Regions from separate parts of the Homo sapiens genome. Here region 1 is linked to region 2. A link means that fine-mapping ties the variant in region 2 to the expression of a gene that starts in the linked region. Tissue or cell type: whole blood. Region 2 holds a variant in brackets; the other region holds the start of a gene. All regions are shown on one strand. Distances are from middle to middle.

Region 1 (8,108 bases), 36 kb after region 2:
AAGACAGATGTAGCTTGGGCAAAAAGGAGAACTGTAATGCTGGAGTAAATGTTTACATTTTATTAAGGGATTTGTGTCCACTAGGTAGTAGCCCATAGCAGTCAGTCTTCCATTATCATTAATATGTATAGCACTCCATTAACAACTGTTTCTTACTCAAGGGAAGGAGGAGGGGATGGCCTGTGGCCCATGCATGGCCCAAAAAAGCCCCTAAGATTCTATATGTCTACAGAAAATTGCACTTCTGGTCATGTATCACTGGACTACAGTAAAACTTGCTGCAGAGCTTTGCACTTGGCCCTCTCTCTCTGCTTTCTTTCATAGTCTTTAATAATGACCTGTTGAGAACATTAAAGGCATTCTTACCTAACTTTCAGATGACAAAGTTAAAAAGTAGCTAATCCAGACAGTAGATTCCACACCTTATTCTTTGCCATGTCCAGGACCCAACCCAGTACCTGGCCCAAAGGAGCCCAGTCAGTGTTTTGTGAATTACAGAATCCAAATTAAAAAGGACATTAACAGGCTTAACTATTGGAGCAAATCTACCAAAGCCAACCTTAATGGGTCAAGTATATTAGAAACAAAAGAAAAAGCTTAACTACAATACCAAAGAAAAGAGAATCTGAGAGATACAAATAATGCCTTTTTTTGAAGCAATTAAGACTAAGATGTTTCAGTTGACAGCAAATTCAATATTTATCAAAGAGAAATTCTGAGAGCTTCCCTAAAAGCTCAGAGAATCTCTTCTACTTCAGTGTTGGAAAAGGATTCTCAACAGGAGAGGTGACAGCCTGCACTTCTCTGTTCAGTTCAAACCACCACACCTGGAATTATTTCTACAGCTCAAGGAATCACACTTTAAGGAAAGGACAATGATTACATAGTGCCTAGAAGAGATTCAAAATAGTGAAAGGGCCAGGCACAGTGGCTCATACCTGTAATTTCAGCATTTCAAGAGGCCAAAGCAGAAGGATTGCTTGAGCTCAGAGTTCTACAACAGCCTGGGCAACATAGCAAAACCTCAACTCTACCAAAAAAAAAAAATTAGCCGAGCATGGTGGCGCACGCCTGTGGTCCCAGCTACTTGGAGGCTGAGGTGGAAGGATTACTTGAACCCAGGAGTTGGAGGCTGCAGGCAGCTATGATATCACCACTAGAGCAAGACTCTGCCTCCAAAAAAAAAAAAAGTGAAAGGATTTAAAACGATGTCACTGTCACTGGAGATCCAGTTAAGGGAGCCAGAGTTGTTTACCCAAGAGAAGACAAGATAGCTATCTTCAACTATCAGAAGGAATGTCATATGAGACACCAAGACTCAGTGGGGAGAATTAGGACTGAAAACTACTAAAAATAAAATAGGACCGGAAGTGGTGGCTCACACCTGTAATCCCAGCACTTTGGGAGGCCGAGGCAGGTGGATCACCTGAGGTCAGGAGTTCGAGACCAGCCTGGCCAACACGGCAAAATCCCATCGCTACTAAACATACAAAAATTAGCCAGGCATGGTGGCACATGCCTGTAGTCCCAGCTACTCGGGAGGCTGAGGCAGGAGAACCACTTGAATCCAGGAGGCAGAGGTTGCAATGAGCCGAGATCGCACCCCTCCACTCCAGCCTGGGTGATAGAGTGAGACTCCATCTCAAAAAGAAAAAAAAAAAAATTTAAAAATGAAATGGGACACCTTAGGACAAAGTGAGCTTTCCACTTTCCATAATACCAGTTCATTTCACCTCCAAGATGTTAAAAAAAAAAAGGGGGACAATCACTTGACTAAACATTAGAAGACCAAAATAGTGATCCATACATAACTGTCTTAAATTCCTGTCAATCCTGCAATTCTTTGAAATGTATGAGAATGTACTTTATAAAATACAAAGTAGTTTACATAGACAGGTACTCTGTTGACGAGAAAAAAGGTGAACTCTTCCTCTCATATCTTCTGACATGATTTCCTCTCCATTTGGAAATTAAAAGAATACAAAGTTGTGTCTTACAAGTCACATAAATCAAATTCCTCTGAAAAATTGTTAAGAAAGATGAGGTTAACTGGTATCTCTGAAAGAGATTAGACACATTGCTGTTTACATACATTGGTGTACAACAAAATCCTAAATTCTATAATATAATTCAGATATTAATACTGGATATCTACTATAACTTCATCCTCCCCTCTGTGGAGTACAGTGGCTTTTCATATATTTAAAAACCTTTACTCTGCTTTCAGTTTCAAGAATGTTTTAGAAATTTAAAATGGAAGTGTAATTTTTAAGTTGAAAGGGTATGGCCAGGTGCAGTGGCTCACCCCTGTAATCCCAGCACTTTGGGAGGCCAAGGTGGGCAAATCACCTGAGGTCAGGAGTTCGAGACCTGTCTGGACAACATGGTGAAACCCCGTTTCTACTAAAAATACAAAAAAATTAGCCAGATGTGGTGGCGTGTGCCTGTAATCCCAGCTACTTGAGAGGTTGACGCAGGAGAATCACTTGACCCAGGAGGTGGAGGTTGCAGTGAGTGGAAATTGCTGCACTTCAGCCTGGGCGACAGGGCAAGACTCAAGTTATCTTTTGAAAAAAAACGTGGAGACCTCAATTACAATAGTTTTCTTTTATCTTAGATCTTTGCATAAAGGAAAACACTAGATGGGTTATTTATCAATATACCGAGGTAATGTGATTTAATTGCTCAAAATCTGAAGTCAGACAGGGGTTCAAATTTGAGCTTGGACACTCCTGCCCCATTGACTTGTGGTAATATTACTGCCAGCAAAATTACTCAACTAAACGTTTTTCCTCAGCTGTAGGGCTATCCACTAAACTATCCACTTCATAGGGTGTTATAAGAATTAAAGCAAGCAGACAGAAAGCAAGCAAAATAATCAGCACAGTAAGAACTCACTAAATGTTAGCTATTGTTACTACTTTACCTAAGTAAATCTCTAAACTTCCAAATGATCCTAGGTATTTGTCCAGTGAATTTTCTTGATCTAAAACACCAGGCTCTCACTAATGACACTGAACAATAACAATTCATTATTAAAATTTTGTCAGTGTTCTGGTACAAGGATTTTTTAAAAATGCAGTTTCCTGGCACTCACTTTTTCAGATATGCTTTACATACGAGTAAAATCAGAGGAGTAAAAATAGAACATGGAATCAGAGCCAGAGCGTCTTGTAAATTCTAGACTCAGTAGTTTAATAATAGCATCAAACATCCAATGTCACAACAATTAGGAGATTACGCATTCTATTAAGTAGTGTCGATGTTCTCACATACTACACATTTACTAATTAAGACCTATTGTGCAAGTTGGGGCGGTAATTAAAGGCAGACAACTTACACTGGACCAGGTCATCAGTGCTTTTTCTGTATATTTATCCTGACAACCCTATGAGCTAGATACTACTATTATGGCCATTTTAACAGAAGAAACAGGCACAGACAGGTTAAGTAACTTACCCAGTATGACACAGCTAGTTAAATGGATGGAGGTGAGACATGAACCTGGACAATCAGGCTCAAAAGTCCACTAGACTTTACTGCCTTTGACCAAATTGGTAAGTCAAATTAGTAGGATAAATTTCTCCTAATAACATCAAAACTGATTTCTCTGGGAGAGGTGGGGTGAGTACAACTCCCTCAAAGGCCTGGCTTCACTCTCAATCAATGATAACATTTTAACACCTTTCCAATGTACCTGTGGAAGAAAGCCGACCTTTTATTTTACAGGTAAAGAAACTGAGTAACAGCAGCGGCTTTTAGTCTGGGGACCAATTGTTGGCCAGTATTCACTTGATGTTTCAGCGTGGGTCAATCGACCTCGCAGAATATGAGTGACCCGCAAGTCAGACCCACGCAGGCTGCAATGAAACTGCGTAACACGCCTAGGCAAGCGGTCATTTCAAAAAACCTCCAGAGATGGCTCTTTTGCCATTCCTGTTACTCAGGACAAAATGGAACTTGCATAAACACTTAGTCATCAGTAAGCGCTGAAGTTACAAATCACCTAATTCGCAAAATCAAATACGCAGCTAAGTTCCTAATTCTGAAAGAAAGAAAAGGAGCTAACATTTGGAGACTGCAACACTGACACCTGGGACCCAGGAACTGCAGTAAATGGGAAAAAACAGCCCACGGACGGAGACCACAACGTGCGCAGCCACCACGGGGAACACTGGGGACTTTTCAGGGCCCTTCCACTTCCCTCCCAACAGCCTGTCCTCGCGTCTACAGGCTGCCCCGACCTGGTGATTCCCCAGGGCGAATTCGGAAAGGTAAACCGAAGGCGGAGATGACAGGCCTGAGATTTGCCAGCCTACATCCAGGGGACCAGGGCGGCAAAGTTTCCCCAGCCCCGGAGGGGTAGGGGCCCTGAGGCGCCCCCTCCCGCTCCCCGAGGTCCGCACCTGCAGAGTGGTGATGTGCTTGTCGTTAAACTTGTTCTCGCAGTAGCGCAGCACCAGCGACGTCTTCCCCACGCAGCCTTCCCCCAGCAGCACCACCTTGAACGAGTAGGCTCGGCCCGCCGCCGCCGCCCCGCCGCCGCCGCCGCCGGCCGCAGCCATCCCGTCGCTTCCCGGCCGCCCGAGCCCGAGTGTCGCGCCGCCCTCCCGACAGCCGCGGCAGCGCCTTCACAGCCACGGCCGGCTCAGCCCCCACCGCCCCGGCCCCGCCGACCCGGGCGCTGTCCCCACGCCCTCCTCGGGCGAGGCCTGGAAGGGCTGAGGGAAAGTCCGAGAATGAAGGGCCCCAGCCCACCACGTCAGGCACCGGAGGAAAAGCGAAGAACGATCCCTCTCTGCCTCCCTCTAATGGCGTCTCCTTCCTCCTACGTCACACCTCGGGTCACGTGAGCGCCGGTGCCGGGGCGGCCCCTGCGACTAGCCCCAGAAGAACGTGCCTGGACGTGGGCGGGGCTTCTGGGGCATCTCCCGGGGTGGAGCTGGATGTGAGTCGAGCGCCTACTGGCAATCTAGGGCAGAGCCCCGCCGCTTGCGAGCCACCTCTGCTTTTCAGTTGGTGGGAGCCAGCGGGAATAAGGAACCAGGAATTTGAGGCGAGCCCAGCTCTGGTGAAATGAAGGGCAGAACTTCATCGTTTTTGCATGTTCACAATGCTAATGATCTGTCACACCAGAGGTCACTGTAAACCATATCTGCCAAGGTGCCCTTGAATCTCTCTCTGTGGGATCCCGAATCATAGCGCTTCCAAGTTCCTCTGACCGCCTGGTCAACTACTCCATCATCTTTCAAGTCTCAGCTTAAACCGCGTCCCTGACCACCCAATCCTTCCCCCATCCTTCCATTCCCCCACCTCACAAAATTAGGTATTTCTTACCACCAGTATACCTCCTTTACTAGGGCTTTACACACTCCATGGATATTATTAATACTTTGCTAAGTGTTTATCGACTCTCATTAGACTATAGGTTTGTTGAGGGCAAGGTCTGTATAAGAGCTGCCCACCTTTGAATTCCTAACCCCAAGTGCTCTTCAGTTTTTCTGACTTTCATGAAGCCTCTGACGTTCCATGGTACTCCACCTTGAGGTGGCTTGTTCGATGATTGCTTGTTTTTTCTCATCTGCATCCCCATTCTTTTTTGTTTGTTTGTATTGTTAGTTTTGAGATGGAGTATCGCTCTGTCGCCCAGACTGGAGTGCAGTGGCGTGATCTCAGCTCACTGCAGTCTCTGCCTCCTGGTTCAAGTGATTCTCCTGCCTCAGCCTCCCGAGAAGCTGGGACCATAGGCGCCCACCACCGCGCCCCGCTACTTTTTGTATTTTTAGTGGAGACAGGGTTTCACCATGTTGGCCAGGCTGGTCTTGAACTCTGACCTCAAGTGATCCACCTGCCTCGGCCTCCCAAAGTGCTGGGATTATAGGTGTGAGCCACCACGCCCGGCCTGCCTCCAAGAAACCATACTCCTCCAAGAAATCATACTAATATTTCTGAAAATTTACTGGAAACCTGGTGTCAGGTAAACATTTTTTTAAAAATCAAACTTCTTTCACACTTCAAACCAGGTTAAAAAAAAAAAAAGAGGCCGGGCGTGGTGGCTCATGCCTGTAATCCCAGCACTTTGGGAGGCCGAGGCGGGCGGATCACAAGGTCAGGAGATCGAGACCATCCTGGCCAACATGGTGAAACCCCATCTCTACTAAAATACAAAAAATTAGCTGGGCATGGTGGCACAAGCCTATAATCCCAGCTACTCGGGAGACTGAGGCAGGGGAAGCGCTTGAACCCGGGAGGCAGAGGTGGCAGTGAGCCGAGATCGCGCCACTGCACTCTAGCCTGGCGACAGAGGAAGACTCCGTCTCAAAAAAAAAAAAAAAAAAAAAGAGAGTCGGTTAATTCATTCAACAAATATTTAAATGTGCCCACCATATGCCAGGCACTGTGATCAACAAGATAAAATGTCTCTGTCCTCACAGAGCTTACATTTTATCAGGGAAGACAGACATACTCAATTGTACAATAAATGCTTTCATCTTGATGAAACAGTTCAGAGTATCTTGCAAGCATATATGAGAACCCAACTGATTTAGCATGCTAGAGAAGCTTTCCCTGGAGAAAGTTATCTTTGGGTAAGAGTAACCTAGTCAGGAAGGACAGGAGAGCTCTGCAAACAGAGATAACAGCATGTTCAATGGCTTTAGATAGGAAGGAGCATCTAAAGTTGAGCAACTGTAAATGTGACTAGAATTTAGGGAGGAAAAAAAAACTCCAGAAGAGACCATGAGGAAGTTGGGGATCAATACTGAAAGGGTCTTTAAGCAAATGAAGGATTTTCGTAAGATGACTGACATAATCAGATTTGACCACTCTGGCTATCATTTGAAAAGTGAATTGGAGAAGGATAATATTTTAGATTTGTTTAGAACCAACCATTAAAGAGACTCTATGTTTTATAAAATATCCTCATGATTGTATCTAAAGATATATTTTCCAACTCTCTCCTCCACATTCCTCCCCTTAGGGTCTTTGCACATTTATAGACACTTCCAGAACTAGAAAAGAACTTCATTTTGAGAGAGCACCTTCCATTGTTCTTTCTGAGCACTTCCTCATATTGGATTGAAATCTGCCTCTCTTCACCTGCAATTAATTATTTCTGTTTATATTTATACATTATATATCGAATCCCTATTCCCTATAAACATATGAAGAAGGCTGTGTGTTCTTCCTTTAAGCCTTCTCCTTTCTTCTTTTTGATACAGCCAATCCTTTCAACAACTTTTCAAATTGTGTGCATTTGATTATTTAACAGCTTGGTCATCTTAGAAACTAAATGCATTACTTTGCATTTATCACTAAATCAAAGCAATTAAAAATTTTTTTATTGTAAAACAAAATAATTTTTTTGTGAGACAGGATCTCACTCTGCTGCCCAGGCTGGAGTACAGTGCCACAATCACAGCTCACTGCAACCTCAACCTCCTGGGCTCCAGCAATCCTCCCACCTCAGCCTCCCGAGTAGCTGGGACTGCAGGTGTGTGCCACCACACCTGGTTAATTTTTTAATTTTTTTTGTAGAGACGATATCTTGCGTGTCTTGCTGTGTTGCCCAGGCTGGTCTTGAACTCCTGGGCTCAAGCAATCCTCCAGCCTCAGCTTCCCAAAGTGCTGGGATTACAGGTATAAGCCACCACACTCAGCCAAAATAATTTTCGAAGTTAAAATAAGTTTTTACATTTAGCTTACGTTGACATTTAAGAAGGTAGTGCAAGTTTTCATGGGTTACAATAAGTAGGTTGGCATACTTTTGAGCACAGAGTGGGTAAATATAGATGTAAATTGTAATAGGCTGATAACGGCCCCTAAAGATATCAGCTCCTAGATTCCGGAGCCTGTAGATGTTACCTTATTTGGGAAACAGGTCTTTTTGATTTAAGTTAAGGATCTTGAGATGGGGAGATTATCTGGGTGGGCCCTAACTGCAATCACAAGTATCCTTATAAGAGAGAGGCAGAAAGAGATGCTTCACACCCAGAAGAGGAGAAGGCAGTGTGACCATAGAGGCAGATTATGGAGCAATGTAGCCATAAGCCAAGGAATGCTTACAGCCACCAGAGCTGGAAAAGACAAGAAGCCCCTAGAGCCTCTGG
Region 2 (8,108 bases):
TTCCTGTCCATTTCCTGTTTAATTCTCAGAGTGCCCCATCAGGCATTTGCAGAGAGGCTCCTTGTAGCATTTCTTGGCGAGTATGTACATTAGAATGTCATAAAATTTCATTTGAGTTTATATGGTAGTTTTAATGGTTTGCTTTGAATCTCCCATTAGATGTATTAAATTAAGTAACTGGCACATGCAATTTCTAGTTGCAAATAAATAAAAAGCAAAAACAGCAAAATTATCTTGAAAAACTGAAGAAGTAAAAAACTTCACATATACTTTAAAAAATTCCATCACAGACTAAGGATTTTTGGACACAAAATTCTACTCAGTTTTCAACAATGTAGCAAAAAATGGGGGTGAACACCTCCAGTTCTCTAGTTCCAGTGTTTCCAAGAGATGACAGGTATCATCCTAATGAGCTTCAAAAAACCAGAGCAGAGATGTAAGTGAATTCAAGGACAGCATTACTAAAAATTATGGCATATAAAAAATTTAGAATTCTTCATGCAAATACCAGGTAGCTGGAAGCTTCTGTGTAATTTATAATTTACTGATCACAAATAAAGGCTTTTTTTTTCTTCTTTTGCCCAACTCTGAAAGAGGTATTAGTTAACCTTAAATTAGTTAAATTTGTGACTAGAGGTCATAGAAACAGTCATAGTCTTCCCTAATGATGTTTAAGCTGACTTTAAATGTCAGTAGAAGGCATTATTACGCTAGGGACATTCCCAAATTTCTCCATTTTATTAAATATAAGGTTTTGTTCTGTTTTGTTTTGTTTTCAAGCAGTGCTTGGCTTAGAACAGCTGCTGCTGCTTCTTTTTTAAGCACCACTACAAATACCATGATGCTTTGACAATATTTTTAAGGGGCTATTCATGGATTCTTAACTTTTAATATTCTGAATCACAAATCTTGCTCATTTTTATTTCTCTAATGAAATCCATCCATATTCCTAGAATTCATTATCAATAGAAAAGGACAAATAAAAGTCACTTGCCAGACTAGTGGTCTTAATCATCATTGAACTCTTTAGCTCTTAGTTCCATATTTAAGAAAATTCCCCCCAATTTTCAATAATCTTATCCCTGTCAAACATTCCACAGATGAGAATTGCTTACACATGGTGATTACTATGAAAATAATTCGACATCTAGTTAACAACTTTTAACTTTTTTTTTGAGACAGAGTCTCACTCTGTCACCGAGGCTGGAGTCCAGTGGCACCAGGTCTGCTCACTGCAACCTCCGTCTCCTGGGTTCAAGCAATTCTCCTGCCTCAGCCTCCCAAGTAGCTGGGATTACAGGGGCTCACTACCATGCCCGGTTAATTTTATATATATATAATATATATATGAAATATATATAAATTTATAAATATAGCTGGGCTCGGTGGCTCACGCTTGTAATCCCAGCACTTTGGGAGGCCGAGGCGGGCGGATAACAAGGTCAGGAGATAGAGACCATCCTGGCTAACACGGTGAAACCCCATCTCTACCAAAAAAATACAAAAAATTAGCCAGGCGTGGTGGCGGGCGCCTGTAGTCCCAGCTACTCGGGAGGCTGAGGCAGGAGAATGGTGTGAACTCGGGAGCCGGAGCTTGCAGTGAGCCGAGATAGCGCCACTGCACTCTGGCCTGGGACAGAGCGAGACTCCGTCTCAAAAAAAAAAAAAAAAAAAAAAAAAAAAATATATATATATATATATATATAATATATATATGGTTTTGTTTTGTTTTGTTTTTAGTAGAGACAGGGTTTCACCATGTTGGCCAGGCTGGTCTCGAACTCCTGACCTCAGGTGGTCCACCTGCCTTAGCCTCCAAAAGTGCTGGGATTACAGGCGTGAGCCACCATGCCACAACTTTTAACTTTTTTTTTTCTTTTTTCTTTTTTTGAGACAGGGCCTCACTCTGTCGTCCAGGCTGGAGTGCAGTGGTGCGACCTCAGCTCATTGCATCCTCTAACTCCCAGGCTCAAGCAATCCTCCCATCTCAGCCTCCTGAGTAGCTGAGACTACAGGCACACACCACCACACCTGGCTAATTTTTGTATATTTTTGGATAGAGATGGGGTTTCGCCATGTTGTCTACACTGGTCTTGAATTCCTGGGTTTAAGGGATCCATCCACCCACCTCAGCCTCCCAAAGTGCTGGATTACAGGCATGAGCCATGGCTCCCAGCCAGCTTTTAACACTTTTGATTGGAAAGGGCCAGCTTTAGTCTTAGCAGAGCAGCAAATGTCAGCCTCAAGGCAACATACCAAAGTAGTAAATTATTAGCCTAGAACCTAGAACCCAGAACCCAAAATCTACCATCTCCTTCCTTTAACAATGCCCTTTCTGACCATCTTCAAGAAAGTTCACCCAAAATTATGTCTTTCGCATAAATAAATTTCTTATGCCACTACTTTTGGCTAAAATCTTTTGATGGGGATGAATTACTCCTCTCACATCCTCTAGCTTTTCCTTTACAGGACTTTTATGTTTTGAAGAACTCATTAAATCACTAAATTTACTAACCTTTTGTGAACTAGTAAGAATGAAAGTAACTTGTGTATAACCAACTAATGGGATAGTTTGTGTGTGTGTGTTTAAACGGATGATTTCGCTCTATTTTCTAACCAGAAGGGCCAGGAGGACTAGATGATTTAACTTTATTATATTGTAATATCAAAAATATCCTTAAAAGACACTGAAAAGATGTTTAGAAAATTCATATTCATTAAACCATCTTTCTGACCTGTATCTTCAATTTCAGATAGAAAAAAAGGGACCCACACTCTTAAACTGGAGAGTGCATTTAGAATTACACAAACTATCCTACTATGACTCAGGAATGGATTGTGTTCTGGCTTACTGTGTGGTGACAAGGCCACATCTGTCAAAGGCAAAGAAAACAACATGATTGCTTTTTAAATTGTATTTTTTCTAGGTTAAAAAAAATCACCGCAAAACCAAACCAAACCAAACAAAAATGGCTGCTGTCTAAATAAGCAGGAGGCATCAGTTTATTCACTGCTACCACAAAATTTGGAAAAGCAATTTGGGTTAGAGGATCACTTAATTACCCCCTTGAAGCTAGAAAGTAAGTTATTCAATTTTAATCTGGCTTGAAAATGTATTATTTGCAAAATTCAAAAACATTCTTTCCAGCTTTACCTCAAATTCACTGTCAGCTTCAACTACTGTCATTCTAATTATCTCACTCCAAAAGTTTGGCAGGTACATATCTGATCAAACACAGAATGTGAACATGTGTGCACAGGTGACCTTATATCCCCAGATAAATTACTTATATCTTGGACTATGTGCAACAGGTATCAGCTCATCTCTAGGTTCCAACGATAAAGGAAGGCACTTTGGCTATCTGGTTCTCCCATGTATGTACACTGGGCACATAGCAGTTTGTGCACTGGGCATACAGAAGGCACTCAACAAATGAGTGAAACTAACCAAAGTCATAAAAAGCTGAATGTTTTAAAATTTTTTAAAATACAGAAACAATTATTAAACTCACATATATGCTTAACCTGCTTTCTGAATTTTCATTTAAAGTCAAACATGAATAAATGCATTTGTTCTGGGGCACACGTTTAACCTTGTGTCATAGCACACATATGCTAAGCTATAGTCTTGACAGTGCAGAGAAGCTCCTATAAATTGTTGGACACTGTAATGCTCTCCAAGTAGGAAAATACACCAAGAGGATGAGCCCAACCCAGAGTTTTATGTGTATTAAGGAGCTTGGACTTGTACATTGCTCTTTCCCAACCCTATTTCCACAGAGGATAGCATTCAAGAGTTTGACTTGACTTTCCCAGAACGCTACAAGTTTTTAAGCTTGATGTATGGTAAACTTACATCTCAAAAGTCCAGTAAGTAGTTAACTTCTAGTTCCAGAACTATTACTGCTGATTTAACTTGCTTTAAAAGAGTATGATTCTAGGGTGGGCATGGTGGCTCATGACTGTTATCCTAGTACTTTGAGAGGCCAAGGCAGGAGGATCACTTTGAAACTAGTTCAAAAACCAGCCTGGGCAACAAAGTGAGAGCCATCTCCACAAAAAAAACAAAACAATTAGCCAGGCGTGGGTGGTGGTGTTATGCACCTGTAATACCAGCTACTTCGAAGTCTGAGGTGGGAGGATTGCTTAAGCCCAGGAGTTTGAGGCTGCAATGAGCTATGATCATGCTACTGCATTCTAGTCTGTG[C/T]GGCAAAGCAAGACCCTGTCTCAAAAAAAACTTCCAGAAAAAGAAGTATGATTCTAGTTGGCCTTGGTAAATTGGTCAGTTGAGGGTGGAATTTGATATAGGGTAGAAGTTCCATTCAGGGAATGGAAAATTTACAAAGGCCAAATATAAATATAAAACTGCATAATAAAGACACAAACCAAACTGTTAACAATGGTTACCTCTAAAAAGGGATGTGGGATGATGAGGGAAGGGAGATCTAAAAAGGAACTTTTGTTTTTACTCTATATTAAAGGCACAGATCAAATACAAGTTTGAATTTTTGGTAGCATCATGTCCTGTTATGGGAGTTGCTGTCAGAGTTGTATAAAGACTTGTTTTAGTTTATCTTGTACTTTTCCCCATCAGTTATACCTTTCCTCTTTTTCCTTCTTCCCTCCAATAAAAAACGTATTCTGATAAAAGAATCTGCTAAAGTTAACTCCTAGATTTTATACACTAAGCAGTCAACCGTCAGCCAAAAGTAATGAACTTCAAATACATTACAAGAGGCCTTCTAGTTTCCTGATTCACATGCTTAAAGCAGACCCTGATTCTGTCTAAGCATTGGCTTGCATTTAAATTCTATGATACTGACTGGGCCTAGTGGCTCACATCTGTAATCTCAGTACTTTGGGAGGCTGAAGTGGGAGGAATGGTTGAGGCCAGGAGTTCAAGACCAGCCTGGGCAACACAGCAAGACTTCCCATCTCTACTAAAAATGAAAAATACAAAAATTAGCCAGGCATGGTGGCTTACACATGTAGTCCCAGCTACTCAGAAGGCTGAGGCAAGAGGATTGCTTGAGTCCATGAGTTCAAGGATGCAGTGAACTATCACTGAGCCACCACACTCCAGCCTGGGTGACACAGCGAGACTGTCTCAAAAAAATGAAATAAAAAAATAAATAAATTTGGATACTAATGAAATCCACCTAACAGACCAGATTCCTTTTCAGGTTTCATGGAGTCAGAGGCTATTTTAAAAAAGAAAAAAAGAAAGAAAAAAAAAAGAAAAAGGCAAGACACATCCATAGAAATGTGGGAGGAAATAAAATGAAAAAGTCTGTATTTACCAAAGAGCTCCTAGACACGTTGGCAAGAGAAAAGGCAAATGGCAAAACACATGGGTAAGACACAATTTATGTGAAAATTTAAAACCCACAACACTATGTATTTCTATATGTAAACATATAGATATATTAATACATAGCAAAAAGATATTTGAGGAGTATATACTAGAGACCAATAGTTACTACCATTTGGGAGCACTACCAAAGGGCACTTTGACAATATATGTTTTTTATTCTTTTCCTAGAACATTTTCTTACATAATTAAATACAAAATGAGGAACTTTCATATTTCTAGGAAGTACCACATACAATGATTTCCTTAAAATAGCTTGCTACTAAAGCTAGAGTTTAGCAGATACCACTTCTTTCTACTTTTCAACATTATACTTTATCCTTGCTATCCCTCACCATTCTCTCATTGATCTACACATGTTCAAATGTAAAGAAATCACCTTAGCTTTTTCTTAAAATACGTGATAGTGAAGAGATGATACAGTTGCCAGAAAGTATCAAAATCAAGACTGAGAACTGGTATAGTGGGAATAAAGGCCACTGAAGTAGGCAACTCCACCTCCTCTTGACTTGTGCCTTTAATATGATGCATTTGAAAATATGTGCAGACTTCTAAAGAAAGATGCTTTAAGAATAAGAGACCTAACTGGGTATGCTGTGTAACATTAACTCATCATGTTTACTCATATATCTACTGAAGAGAAAATGTTGCAGTAGAAAGGTTAATGCGCCAAAGCAGTTTTCCAGAAAAGCAAAAATGTATAAATCCTAGATAGCACAAGAACTGCTAAAGGTCTATCAATTAAGTGGTATTTATTTAGAAGAGAAGCATTTCTGCTTGAAATTGAAAACTCTTAGGAGTATTTCTAAATTTTTTCCAATACATAACACTATTAAAATATTACAACTAGGAAAATTTTGCTCAAAATTGCAACTGTTTTCTTGAAAAGGTAAAGGCCATCAGACATATGTGTAGCACGAATTTTGGTCCAGAACACCAAATATATTACTCTGTTATAGTTGATTACAGATAACAGAACAGCAACATACTAAAATCAATGCATATTATGAAATCAAGTAGATGCGGTTCAATAAATTCCAGCTTTTAACTATTAAAGCCTAGGTAATGCATTTTATAATTTAGAGAAGAGTACTTAGGGATCTACTCAGTTTATATCTTTAGACATTATTGTGAGGCTCCTGCGGGTCACTACTACTATCTATATCCTTTTCCAGAAAATATCAGCATCTTAAATGGTCACAAATTATGTATTCCCTCTTTGTCACACTGAATCTACAGAGAAAACTGAAAACTCTACAGTGGCAAACAAGTCAAAAGATGAATTCTAAAAGTTAAAGGCACAGATCAAACTACTTTTAGAGATAACGTAACGGGTAATTATAAGAGTAAACTATACTATCTGAATATGTAAGATCAACTATCTAGAATCCTGGTAGCACTTATAATACAGAAAATTGCAAATTATATAATTAAAGAAATAAACAGTATCACAATCCATTTTTAAAATGTTCTTAATATTTGGCATAATGCATAGTTTGCCTTAATTAGAAACTCTTTGATAAAAGTAATGTACTTTTCAAAGTGATTTAAAAAACTGTCAGGTTGTAGTTTTTTATTTACTTGACTTCCATTCTATTCCTCCCTATGCTCTTTCCCTATTTTTCCAATTTTATCTTTCACTACTAAAAACCTAAAAGTGAAGTACTACTCTTCTTCTTCACTTTAATGTCAAATATAAAGTACTCCACTAATAACATATGGCTACTATTAAAAAAAAAAAAGATTTCAATGCAGTAACAGCCATAGCTTTAGGGTATTCTTAGGCAACACCCCAGACAAAACAAATCTGAACACTTATATTTCATACAATAACATAATGCTTTTTTCTTTTCACATTACTGCTTACCCCAAAAGCATGGCAATATACATTTTCAAAAACAATCTTCCCCTGTAATTACAATGAAAAACAAGAAGCAGAATACCCATCATCATTACAGAAACAATGATTGTATACTTTTAACATAATATTCAGGTATTTTTAATCACTATCTTAAACCAATTTTTAATTATATAAGTTAACTGTATATGCTTACTGGCTGAAAAAATACTGGCACAACCTACCTACTGCTTTTAATACACAACGTGGTAACTTGTGTCTTCTGCCTAATAGCACAATTATCAGAAAAAGAATGCAAAAGGTATATTAGAGAAATGAAGAAAGCATCAGAAAAATTTCCTCAGCCTTGGTTTATCATCTCTTTGTCTTTCCTTTGTATATATACTGAAGTTGACTGGTCCTCTTTCATTACTCTATTCCTACCCAAAGACCTTTTGGGTTTCAAAGTGACAGCAGCCATATCATGTTGTCTATTGTTGCTATTGAATTAGCCTCAATTACAGGCCCCCACTAAAAAGGATAAAGAAATACGTGAGGTTAAGAAAGATAACACAGAAACCAAAGGAGAAAAAAGAAAAAAAAAATATGAAGAATAGTTATGACCCACCAATAATTATCTGGCAATTCTGGAGCAGAGGTTCCTATCTAGCTGTTTCATTAAAGTAGGATGAAAAGCTGAAGTATAGCTCTCCAATTATCAGGCTTTAGAACGTTTTTTTAAAATAAAGCTCAATTTCATCTCTAACTAGTTTTTGTGCCTTTTACGAGATGGAGGTCTCAGTGTTACCTAGGCTGGATTTGAAATCCTGGCCTCAAGTGATCCTCCTGCCTCACTCTCCCAAGTAGCTGGCCCTACAAATGCATGCCTCTGTGCCCAGC

What was found. PIP is the estimated chance that this variant, and not a neighbour inherited with it, causes the effect.
Region 1: it holds the start of RAB21, and the variant in region 2 is fine-mapped to the expression of RAB21 in whole blood (TOPMed, PIP above 0.99). The same link has a PIP of 0.9 or more in blood mononuclear cells, fibroblasts and lung.

What each region holds. Positions count from the first base shown.
Region 1 is chr12:71,751,587-71,759,694 of GRCh38, reverse strand. It overlaps RAB21 (RAB21, member RAS oncogene family), which reads right to left and starts at 4,832. Exons shown (of 7, transcript NM_014999.4): 1 at 4,407-4,832. The coding sequence starts at 4,565. RefSeq lists enhancers at 3,941-4,130, 4,771-5,060 and a silencer at 4,511-4,790.
Region 2 is chr12:71,788,004-71,796,111 of GRCh38, reverse strand. RAB21 (RAB21, member RAS oncogene family) reads right to left here. Exons shown (of 7, transcript NM_014999.4): 7 at 1-8,108. Among named protein-coding and RNA genes, the nearest start is that of RAB21, 37 kb to the right of the region's middle. The variant C/T (reference allele first, on the strand shown) is at 4,208.